Linked DNA regions of Homo sapiens: region 1 is linked to region 2. Evidence: fine-mapped expression QTL. Tissue or cell type: whole blood. Region 2 holds a variant in brackets; the other region holds the start of a gene. All regions are shown on one strand. Distances are from middle to middle.

Region 1 (5,928 bases), 45 kb after region 2:
GTGTTAACAACTGGCAAGATTACAGCTTCATGCTCATCCCTATCAGTTCAATCAATCAGATTACAATTTTTGGCATTAATGCCACAGACCAGGTTATGATTTTAGCAGGCACCCCTATAACTGATTATATTCTTCCCTAACCATCTAGGTGCAGATTACCAGTTAGCATCTGTTACTTCTACAGATGGTTGATTCCATCACGTTGCATTATTTCATTTCTCTCCAACCTTCCTGTCATCTCCTAGAGACTCGGCATAGAAATAATCTTAAGAGTATGGGCTGGGCACGGTGACTCACACCTGTAATCCCAGCACTTTGGGAGGCTGAGGCAGGCAGATCACTTGAGGTCAGGAGTTCGAAACCAGCCTGGCCCACATGGTGAAACCCTGTCTCTACTAAAAATACAAAAGAGTTAGCAGGGCGTGGTGGCGTGTGCCTGTAATCCCAGCTACTTGGGAGGCTGAGGCAGGGGAACTGCTTGAACCCAGGAGGTAGAGGTTGCAGTGTGCCGAGATCGCACCACTGCACTCCAGCCTGGCCGACACAGTGAGACTCCATCTCAAAAAAAAAAAAAAAAAAAAAAAAAAAGAGTATGGAAACTAGTGGTTTTCAAACTTTATTTTAAAAAGTAACAGAACTCTTTCTTTCTTACTGTAAAAAAATTCTCTCTATATAAGAGATAAAGGATCTGTTAAAGTAGGGACTCCCAGTCTGGTGAGGTGGCTCACATCTGTAATCCCAGCACTTTGGGATGCCGAGGCGGGTGGATCCCTTGAGCCCAGGAGTTCAAGACCAGCCTGGGCAATATAGTGAAACCCCACCTCTACCAAAAATACACAGATTAGCTGGGTGTGGTAGCTCACACCTGTGCTCCAGCTACTCAGGAGGCTGACGTGGGAGGATCACCTGAGCCTGGGAGGTTGAGGCTGCAGTGAGGCATGATGGGGCCACTGCACTCCAGCCTGGTCGACAGAGTGAGACTCTGTCAATCAATCAGTCAATCAATCAACCAATCAATCAATCAATAAGCAGGGACTCCCTCACTACACACTCACCTCTCTGCGGCTATCCAATCTACTGTGGGAGAGCCTGAAAACCCTTTTTTTTTTTTAGATGGAAGTTTCGCTCTTGTTGCTCAGGCTTGAGTGCAGTGATCTCCGCTCACTGCAACCTCCGCCTTCCAGGTTCAAGCGATTCTCCTGCCTTAGCCTCCCAAGTAGCTGGGATGAAGGTGCCCACCACCAGGCCCAACTAATTTTTTTGTATTTTTAGTAGAGACAGAGTTTCACCATGTTGGCCAGAGTGATCTCCAACTCCTGACCTCAGGTGATCCGCCCGCCTTGACTTCCCAAAGTGCTGGGATTACAGGCGTGAGCCACCGCACCCAGCCGAAAAACCACCGTCTTAGACCATCCTAGAGCTGGCAGAGCTGGCCCATCATACTCCATTAAACACTGGCAGGAAAAGCCTGTCCAAATCAAATAACTTCTTTAAAACATGTTGAGATTATTTGTGTACAAGATAAAAGGAATCTACTGCCAGTATAAATGCATTCAGATTAGTTATGTACAGTAGAATTTTTATTTGTAGGAAATATTTAGATTTTTTTTCAGATATGTGAGACACCCCAAGAGAATATCGTAAGTATAAACTGGGTTTGGGAAAGAATAATATGGCAGTCGGGTCAGATTCACTGTATCTAAAGATCTTGCTCCTAATTCCGATGGCATGTCTGTAATTGGGCCCCCAATTTCAAATTTAGTCCACTCTTCTTTTCTATACAAGGAGAGGCTTTATGCTCCACCTGCTACATGACCCAAATCAATAATCCAATGCAGCAGCTTGGGGAACCCTAGGTTTTCACTATGGGACCAAATAAACTCAGAATACTTTTGAGAACTTCAATCACATGAAATAATTATTTCAGAGAAGGATCCTTGTGGAAAGACCGTAACAGGAAGAGCATTCTGAGGTAACCTTTCCCAACTTTCTCCTCCACACATTCTTGCAGAGGAAATTAAGAGAGAGAAAAAAATTAAGAAATCCCAACTTAGTCCGGACTCTAGTAGTACATGTCAAGCACAGAACCCCTAATTTAAGACCCGCGTCCCGAGGCCAGGCTCCCTCGGGAAGGTAGCGAGTGCATCGCGATAAAATCTTTCCTCCCGCCTTCGGAGTCAAACGGCCCCGCAATCCAAACAGTTTAGAATCCAGCTTGTTCTTAATGCCACAGTCAAGAGAAGATCCATAACCCGCCTTGGTCATCTGCCCTTCTGTGTTCACAACCGTTCAGGGCACAAGTTCTTCGGTCTAACCGAATCTTTCCCTGCTGCGGGGTTAAGCCCAACCTTTCTTTCTGACCTTGGGGAGCCGGCAGCTCCCCGCCCGGTGCCCTCACAAAAGCCTTTGGGGGCTCCCTCTCCAAGATGAGACGTTTATCCCATCCCCCCACCCTCCTAAATTTAGGACAGGAAAGCTTTAGGGCCACCGTCTCTCTTCCGGGACCGATCACACTTCGTTCCAAATAGGAAAAGACAGGGGGGAAAAAAGATGGAGGGGCGGGAGACCTGGACCCCGGAGAGTCACCTTCCAGCTACCCACAGGAACCAAGCATCCGATCACTCGCGCATCCCTCTCCCCTCCTCCCCCGGCCCGCAGTGCACCCCACAGGGAGCCCCGCCGGGTCCACTCTTGCTCCGACCCCCATTTCGCGCGCCCCCTCGGCTCTATCTCCCAGATCCTCAGGCGACGAATGGAAAGGGGGTCCCTTCCCTCTCACCTGGGACGGAGGCGCTCGCTCATGGCAGCTGGCGGATGGAAGCTACGCGGCGCCGCTCCGCGAAGAGAGGGAACAGAGGGGGTTGTGTTTCGGCGGCCGCCACGCCCACCCCCTCGGGCCTTGGCTCTCGCAGCCGCTCGGGTGGACGCAGCCGGTGGCGAGTACCCCTCAGTCGGACCCGTACCACCACTACTTCCGGCGTCTGCTCCGCGCCCCCCCATGTCGCTGCCGCCGTGGTACCGCCCTCTCGCGGCTGCGCAGTGGCACCATCCCAACCGCACCGACTGGTAACCCCGCCCACGGGAAGAGGCGGGCTCGGAGCGGGAGGAGCGACTAGGAGCTTCTGGGAGAAAGGACCTCCCCTGGGGTGGCAGAAGCGCTCGCCTGTTCACAGCCAACGGAGGGTACGGTATAAAAGTCAAGCCAGGTTTCAAATAAATTCAATTATGTCATAATAATATCATACAAGTATTTGAGTTGAATCCGTGTAACATATTTTAAAACAGGCGGACCTATCCGGCAGTGGTGCAGACGGCCTGACGAGGTTCCTTGGCCGGGGGTTGGGCAGGGGCCTGGGGGGCTTCCCTGGGGGGCTTGTCGCCGGGGCCGCCTGGGCTTTCAGGTCTTCCGAGGTGAGGACGGTGCTCTGTGGGGAGCTTGCAAGGGCGGGTTTGTTTTCCGCGGCCCACGTTCTAAGTCTGGGGGAGACTCTCCTGAGCGGAGAGGGTAGGGAATCGGGTGCCGGGGCCGGCGGAGGGTCTTCCTGGAACCGCAGGAGGAAATCCTCGGTGGGGCTGCGGGAACGGCTGTCCCTGACCCAGGAGCTGCCGGGCCGACCCCATCCACTCCGCAGAATCAGAACAGCTGGCAGAATCAGAACAGCTTTCAGGGAAAGGAAGGGTGCGGGGAGGTGGGCAGGCTGGTAACGCAGCGGGAGGAGGGAAAGGCGGCTGGAGAGCGCCGGAGGTGAGGGTGAGGATTAGTGGAACTATTGAGGTCCTCCTTGAGCCCGGAGGCTGGGGAGGTCTTAACTCTCTGCTTTCCGGAACCTGTGTTTCTATTTGGTTCAGTATCGTGCCGCGTTTACTCACTGTGCATGCTGCCAAGTCACCTGTCTGATCGTGTCCTACACAGGCTGACATTCACGTTTCATTCTGCCACACTCGGGAACGGTGATCGGGGAAGCATGGGGATCCGGGAGAAGCACCCACAAAACTAGCATCCTCCTGGAGGAGCTCGGGTAAGAAAACAGACACCCACGTATAGACGTTATCGTGGGAATGTACCGGGATCTTTCAAGTAGGGTTGAGTGTGAGGTGGAGTGGAGGCAGAAACGTCTAGCAGGTGTCAAGCCCTTCCTAACGTTGTTAGCCGAAGGTCCATGGACTGGCTTCATTTGTGTGTATTATTGTAAACAAACAGTCTGTGGCTTTCATCCTGTTAGTGTGTACCTCCAAAGAAAGAAAGAATGATGGCTCACGCCTGTAATCCCAGCAGGCTGGGCGCGGTGGCTCACGCCTGTAGTCCCAGCACTTTGGGAGGCCGAGGCGGGTGGATCACCTGAGGTCAGGAGTTCAAGACCAGCCTGGCCAACATGGTGAAACCCCGTCTCTACTAAAAATACTAAAATTAGCTGGGCGTGGTGGCGCACGCCCTTAATCCCAGTAATCCCAGCCACGCGGGAGGCTGAGGCAGGAGAACCGTTTGAACCTGGGAGGCTGAGGTTGCTGTGAGCCGAGATCGCGCCACTGCACTCCAGCCTGAGTGATAGAGCAAGACTCCATCTCAAAAAAAAAAAGACCAAACAACAACAAAGTAAAAATGATTACTGTAATCTGTTGGCAGAAAACAGTTTTGTTTTGAAGGACTTCGTACAGGATAAGGTGGGTTGGTTGCTTTATTGAATGGATTGGTGAAGATTGTGTCTATTTTGTAAGTGGTTTCAGTCACCCTTTTTAATCTCTTTGGTAGTCAGAAGATATTATCAGTTGTAGTACTGAATAATATTTAAACGTTTATATCTAAAGAATTAAGTGAACAAATATTGTATGCCAGGCTCAGTGCTAGGTTTTTACATACAGCTGTGTGCAGGATAGATATGTTTCCTGCCCTCTGGAACTTTATAGAAAGAATAAGAGATGTAGAAAGGAAATAACTTTCAACTAAACATTGGAATTAAACATTTTCTTTTCTGGACTCTAAAGAATAACAGGTACAAATATACATGGTATAAATGTTTTTTTTTTAATTTTTTACATCGTATATGTTTAACAAAGATGTCAAACTAATTTGCCAGTAATCTGTTGTACTAGAAACTATAAGTAGGCCAGGCGTGGTGTCTCACGCCTGTAATCCCAGCACACTGGAAGGCCGAAGGCGGGCAGATCACGAAGTCAGGAGATTGAGACCATCCTGGCCAACATGGTGAAACCCCGTCTCTACTAAAAATACAAAAATTAGCCTGGCGTGGTGGCGCATGCCTGTAGTCCCAGCTCCTCGGGATGCTGAGGCAGGACAATAGCTTGAACCTGGGAAATGGAGGTTTCAGTGAGCCGACACTGCACTCCGGCCTGGTGACAGAGTGAGACTCTGTCTCAAAAAAAAAAAAAAAAAAGTATAAGTGAAAAACAGGACTGTGTCCTTGGCCATGTATATATTTGTGCATTATGCATACATTTTATGTATATCTGTGTGTGTGTGTGTGTGTATATGCATATTACTAAATGTTAGTAGAGCTTCATTTCTCATTCTTTGATTGTGGTAATTCTAATATTTTCTTCTTACACCCTAGTGCATATTCTATTTATCACTTTGGAAACCTCTGCTGTAATCAGTAACCTTTGGCTGGGCGTGGGCGTGGTAGCTCGCGCCTGTAATCTCAGCACTTTAGGGGGCTGAGGTGGGTGGATTGCCAGAGCTCAGGAGTTCGAGACCAGTCTGGGTAACACGGACACGGTGAAACCCCGTCTTTACTAAAATACAAAAAATTAGTCAGGCGTGGTGGCATGCCCCTGTAGTCCCAACTACTTGGGAGGCTGAGACGAGAATTGCTTGAACCTGGGAGGCGGAGTTTGCAGTGAGCAGATATTGTGCCACTGCACTCCAGCCTGGGTGACAGAGTGAGACTCTGTTTCCAAAATAAATAAATA
Region 2 (5,928 bases):
TGTTGATAAACACTAGCTTTTATTATTTTAGATGGGTGGTTCAGGCAGGCTTCTTGGAGGAGGTGACTGCCATATGAAGATCTGCAGAAGAAACAGCACAAACAATGGCTTTAGGAAGGAGGGAACCAAAGCTTGTTTATGAAGCAGGAAGAAGACCAGGGAGGCCAGAGTAGAGTGAGGGAGGAGGAGAGTGGGGTGAGGGAGGAGGAGAGTGGGGTCAGGTAGGGTCAGGCCACGCAGGGACTTGAAGGTCTTTGATGGGAGTTTGCATCTGGCCAAGAGGGATGGGCAGCCGGGGGAGGTTTTAAGCAGAGGATACACAAAACCTGGTTTCCACTTTTAAAAGTCGGCTTTGTAGCAAGGAGCATGAACTAAAAGGGGTCAGAAGTAGAGGCTGGGTACGGTGGCACACGCCAATAATCCCAGCAGTTTGGGAGGCCGAGGCAGAAGGATCATTTGAGGCCAGAAGTTCAATACCAGCCTGGGCAACACAGTGAAACCCTGTCTCTACAAAAAATTCAAAAATTAGGCCAGATGCAGTGGCTCATGCCTATAATCTCAGCACTTTGGGAGGCTGAGGAGGGCAGATCACCTGAGCTCGGGAGTTCAAGACCAGCCTGGACAATATGGCGAAACCCCTTCTCTACCAAAAACACAAAAATTAGCCAGGCACAGTGGCACGTGCTTGTGGCCCCACCTACTCGGGAGGCTGAGGTGGGAGGATTGCTTGAGCCTGGAGGTGGAGGTTGCAGTGAGCTGAGATCCTGCCACTGCACTCCAGCCTGGGTGACAAAGTGAGACCCCCTCTCAAAAAAAAAAAATTAAAAATTAGCCAGTTGTGGTGGCACACACCTGTTGTCCCAGCTACTCAGGAGGCTTAGGTGGGAGGATTGCTTGAGCCTGGGAAGGTCAAGGCTGCAGGGAGCTGTGATTGTGCCACTGCACTCCAGTCTGGGTAACAGAGCAAGATTCTGTAGAAAGAAAGAGGAAGAAAGAAAGGAAAAGAAAAAGAAAAGAAAAGAAAAAAGAAAAGAAAAGGGCCGGGCGTGGTAGCTCACGCCTGTAATCCCAGCACTTTGGGTGGCCGAGGTAGGCGGATCACTTGAGGCCAGGAGTTCGAGGCCAGCCTGGCCAACATGGTGAAACCCTGTCTCTACTAAAAATACAAAAATTAACCAGGTGTGGTAGTGCATGCCTGTAATCCCAGCTACTTGGGAGGCTGAGGCAGGAGAATCGCTTGAACCCGGGAGGTGGAGGTTGCAGTGAGCCGAGATCATGCCACTGCACTCTAGCCTGGGCGACAGAGCAAGACTCCATCTCAAAAAAAAAGTAAAGAAAGAAAGGATGAGAAGCTGTTAACCTGGACCAGTGGAAATGGAAAAAGAGCAGGGGTCACCAAACCATGGTCCAAGAGCCAAAATGGGCCCTTCGCCTGTTTTATTAAATACAGTTGGCCCTTTCAGCAACACGTGTTTAAACCGCACGGGTCCATTTTTTTCCTGATTTTTTTCAACCAAACAGTGATTGGAAATAGAGAATTTGTGGGATGCAAAACCCGTGTATATGGAAGGTCCACTTTTCATACTCACAGGTTTCACAAGGCTGACCGCAGGTCTTGAGTGTGCACGAATTTGGAGATATACAGGGGTCCTGGATCCAATCCCCCTCGGATACTGGGGGATGCCTGTAAAGTCTTACTGGACACAGCCACACCCACCTGCGGATGTGCTGCCTGTTGCTGCTTTGGGGCGACAACGGGCTTGCTGAATTGTGTTGACAGAGACCGCAAGGTTGGCCGGGTGCAGTGGTTCATGCCTGTAATCCCAGCACTTTGGGAGGCTGAGATGGGCGGATCACCTGAGGTCGGGAGTTCGAGACCAGCCTGGCCAATATGGTCAAACCCCATCTTTACCGCCACCCCCCCCCCCCCCAAAAAAAAGACAGAGACTGCAGGGTCTGCAAAGTCCACTTACTATCTGGCTCTTTATAGCAAAAGCTCATCCATCTGTGTTTTGGAGGAAGAGCCGATAGGGCTTGTGAAAGCACTGGGTATGCAGAGTGAGAGAGAGATGGAAGACTTCCTGAGTCTGAGCCATGAATAGCTGGGCGGTGCCATTTCTTGAGATAGGAATGACTTGGAGTGAGGGCCTAGGAGGGACACTAAGAAGAGAGTTGTTATTCTGGATGTGTTAAATTTGAGATGTCTCTTAGACATCCAAATGGAGTTTCTTTTCTTTTTTGGAGACAGAATCTCACTCTGTCACCCAGGCTGGCGTGCAATGGCACAATCTTGGCTCACTGCAACCTCTGCCTCCTGGGTTCAAGCAATTCTCCTGCCTCAGCCTCCTGAGTAGCTGGGACTACAGGTGCCCACCACCACGCCTGGTTAATTTTTGTATTTTTTTAGTAGACACAGGGTTTCACTATATTGGCCAGGTGGTCTCGAACTCCTGGCCTCAGGAGATCCTTTGGGAGGCCTTGGCCTCGCAAAGTGCTGGGATTACAGGCATGAGCCACCGTCGCCGGCCCCAAGTGGAGTTTCTAAGGAGGCAGCCAGATGTACAAGACAGGAGTATAGGCGCAGGAGGAACAAATGTAGGAGTTTCTGCAAACATGCCTGCCTGGCTGTTTGCTGAAGGC[A/G]GAGTCTCAGGTATCTGCAAACAGTTAAGTCAAATAACCACCGCTTCTACCACAAATGTCACCTCCAGTAGACACAGGCTGATAAACACTGCCATAAAGATAAGATGTCAAGACAACTACATTAGGGCTCTCTTGATCCCATTGGCATCTCAGCCAAGAGCAAACACCAACTGTCCGAATCCCACTGAGCAATAGTGTGGAATTCAACCTCCTGTCCTGCCCCGGATGTTACTTTTATTGACAGTGTATCCCTTACAACATCAAATTTCCCTTTCTTTCCTCCCCTGTTTGTTAATTTGTGATCAATTTCCAATTTCCTCTCCTTTCCTTTTTTCTTCCTTCTCGCTTTCACCCTTTCCATTTCTCCTAGCTTAGCTAGAATTAAATTTCTTATTTTCATTTTCCTGGGTAATTTTGTCTCTCCCATTTATTTTCTCTTCTCCAGGTATCCCCAGCTTTAATTCCCTCCTAAGTTTATCAGAGAATGACCCTTCGTCCAACATCATCAGGGCCCAGGTACAAGATTCAGCAGGTTCACTCTTCAGAGTCTATATGGACGTGCCAAAAACGCAGCCACCTTACATCGAAGAGGAGGTATTGGAAGAAGGGTTGAAGTGGATGTGAGATGAGATGGGTGAGAATTGTCTTACTGCTTTTATTATTTCAATTAGACAACTGAGGGCGAAAAGCCCTTGTGCCTTTTCCAGTGCATCCTTTGTGTAGACACTGTGATTATGTAACATATATGCTTGGCATATTTTGCAAATATTTATTGAATCATTTGGTTTGACAGCCAAGATCTATGGGACCCATGCTCCCAGATGCTAGATCACAGATTGCATAAGGAAAGAACATGTGGTGTCTACAAAATCTGCAATGTTGAAACTCTCCACTTTGGGCATTATCCTGGCTTGCTTTCTATATTTCTATTAAAAAGTAAAGAGAGCTGGGTAAGTGGCTCACACCTGTAATCCTAGCACTTTGGGAGGCTGAGGCAGGAAGATGGCTTGAGGCCAGGAGTTCAAGACCAGCCTGGACAACATAGTGAAACCCCCATCTCTACAAAAAATTTAGAAATTAGCTGGATGTAGTAGTGCATTCCTGTGGTCCCAGCTACTCCAGAGGCTGAGGTGGGAGGACCGCTTGGGCCCAGGAGGTCAAGGCTGCAGTGAGCTGTGATCATGCTACTGTACTCCAGTCTCAAATAAATAAATAAATAAATAAATAACAGGAGAAATCTGTCTGCTCAATGTTCTGAATAAGACTATACTGATCAGGACTGGGCGCTGTGGCTCATGCCTGTAATCCCAACACTTTGGGAGGCTCAGGCGGGCAGACCACCTGAGGTCAGGAGTTTGAGACCAGCATGGCCAAAATGGTGAAACCCTGTCTCTACTAAAAATACAAAAAATTAGCCGGGTGTGGTAGTGCGCGCCTGTAGTCCCAGCTACTTGGGAGACTGAGGCACGAGAACTGCTTGAGCCTGGGATGGGAAGGCTGCAGCGAGCTGAGATCATGCCACTGCTCTCCAGCCTGGGAAACAGAGTGAGACTCCGTCTCAAAAAAAAAAAAAAAAAAAGAGTGTGCCGATGGGTCTAAAGAAACTAAAATGTCAGAATATATCCACTGTGTTGAAAGACTGCCCTCCAGCATGCAGATGCTTGGCTACCAGGCATGGCCACCCCATGTGTCATCTGCCCCCAAATCACTGGATAGCCACTCCAACTTGGGTGCCCAAACTGACTGTAGAGACCCACCCTTAGGCAGAGATCAGGAAGCAGTGTGGGTACCATCCGAATGGTGCTCAGAATTGTTTGAGCCATCTGTTTCTTGATATTCTGAAATTTTCTTTGAAGCTAATAATGTGACAATGTAGAAAGATCAAGGACTTCTAGAGCCAGGGGATCTGAAGACAGGCACCTGTGTGAACTCACGCAGGTTGCTTGATGCTAAAGGTTATCACACAACACACATGAACTCATCCCTATACCAGAACTAAACTATGGCAATAAGGCGAAAAGGTGCCTCTTTCACTCAGGTACCTCCTAATACCTTGAGAAAAAAAGGCTCCAGGTTCTCATCTCTGTCTTGCTGTCCCCGGCACAGTGCCTGGCCCGGCTGTGGCAGCTGAGGTCTTTGCCCCTGATCCGTGGTTTTGATGGTCCCAGCTGATATGCAGAAGGCAGAGGAAGGGGGTGGTGCTGTCCTGGGAGGCAGAGGACAAGGAAAGGAGCCATGGAGAGGAAAGAGTTAAAGACACATTTCCTCCAGGGCCAGGAGCTTTTCCAGTGACCAGGCAGTCAGGTGACAGCTTCTGTCAGTGCTCAGTTCTGCAGGCAGAGGAACAACAGTGGCATCTTCAGGCCAGTCAGATGAACTTGGCCAGGGAAATACAGAGGAAAGGCAGGGAACACCCTGATTTCAAACCACACTCTGGACTAGGTGAGGTGGCTCACACCTGTAACCCGAGCACTTTGGGAGGCTGAGGTGGGAGGATCCCTCTAGCCCAAGAGTTTGAGACCAGCCTGGGCAACAGAGTGAGGCCCTGTCTTTACACAAAAATTAAAAAATTAGCCGGGCATGGTGGTGCACACCTGTTAATCCCAGCTACTAGGGAGGCAGAGGTGGGAGGATTGCTTGAGCCCAAGAGGTGGAGGCTTCAGTGAGCCGTGATTGCACCCCTGCACTCCAGCCTGGGCAACAGTGAGACCCTGTCTCAGAACACACACAAACACACACAGACACACACACACACTGCAGTGTTGACAGCTGGCCAGTTTGTCTTTTCTCTACCTGACTCAGAACACACACACACACACACACACACACACACACACACACTGCAGTGTTGACAGCTGGCCAGTTTGTCTTTTCTCTACCTGAGCTTACAGGTATTGTGCACAAGCGCAAGGACCATCCCATACAAAGCCCTGGGCCCCCCACTATCCCTGATATGTTGACATTTCTCCCCTTGCTGTAAGAAAGGCTTCAACCAAACTCTCATGGAGCTGGAACCTTAGTGCAGTGTATATCAGTTAGGGCTAGGGCAAACCAGGGAAACCGATTTTGATTTTCAAAGAAACAAAATTGATCAGTAAGACACTGCACAGTTCATAGAATCTCTGGGAAAGATGGGGAGGCAGGTTCAGGGGACAGGCAGGAAGGAAGGAAGGGAAACAGAACATTTAAAACCTAGACGAGCACACCACATGGTGATTCTGTCGAGGACGTCATTGTGGGTGCCCACGGCTGCCACCAGCACCACCGCCAGCATTAGCAGCTGGGAGC

What was found. PIP is the estimated chance that this variant, and not a neighbour inherited with it, causes the effect.
Region 1: MTNAP1 starts here. The variant in region 2 is fine-mapped to the expression of MTNAP1 in whole blood (TOPMed, PIP above 0.99). The same link has a PIP of 0.9 or more in lung.

What each region holds. Positions count from the first base shown.
Region 1 is chr17:73,229,307-73,235,234 of GRCh38, forward strand. It overlaps MTNAP1 (mitochondrial nucleoid associated protein 1), which reads left to right and starts at 3,127. Exons shown (of 6, transcript NM_001351264.2): 1 at 3,127-3,183; 2 at 3,914-4,019. VCF1 (VCP nuclear cofactor family member 1) reads right to left here and starts at 3,088. Exons shown (of 4, transcript NM_001098832.2): 1 at 2,780-3,088. The coding sequence starts at 3,000. RefSeq lists an enhancer at 1,805-2,581.
Region 2 is chr17:73,184,754-73,190,681 of GRCh38, forward strand. No RefSeq gene overlaps it. Among named protein-coding and RNA genes, the nearest start is that of COG1, 5.3 kb to the right of the region's middle. The variant A/G (reference allele first, on the strand shown) is at 2,641.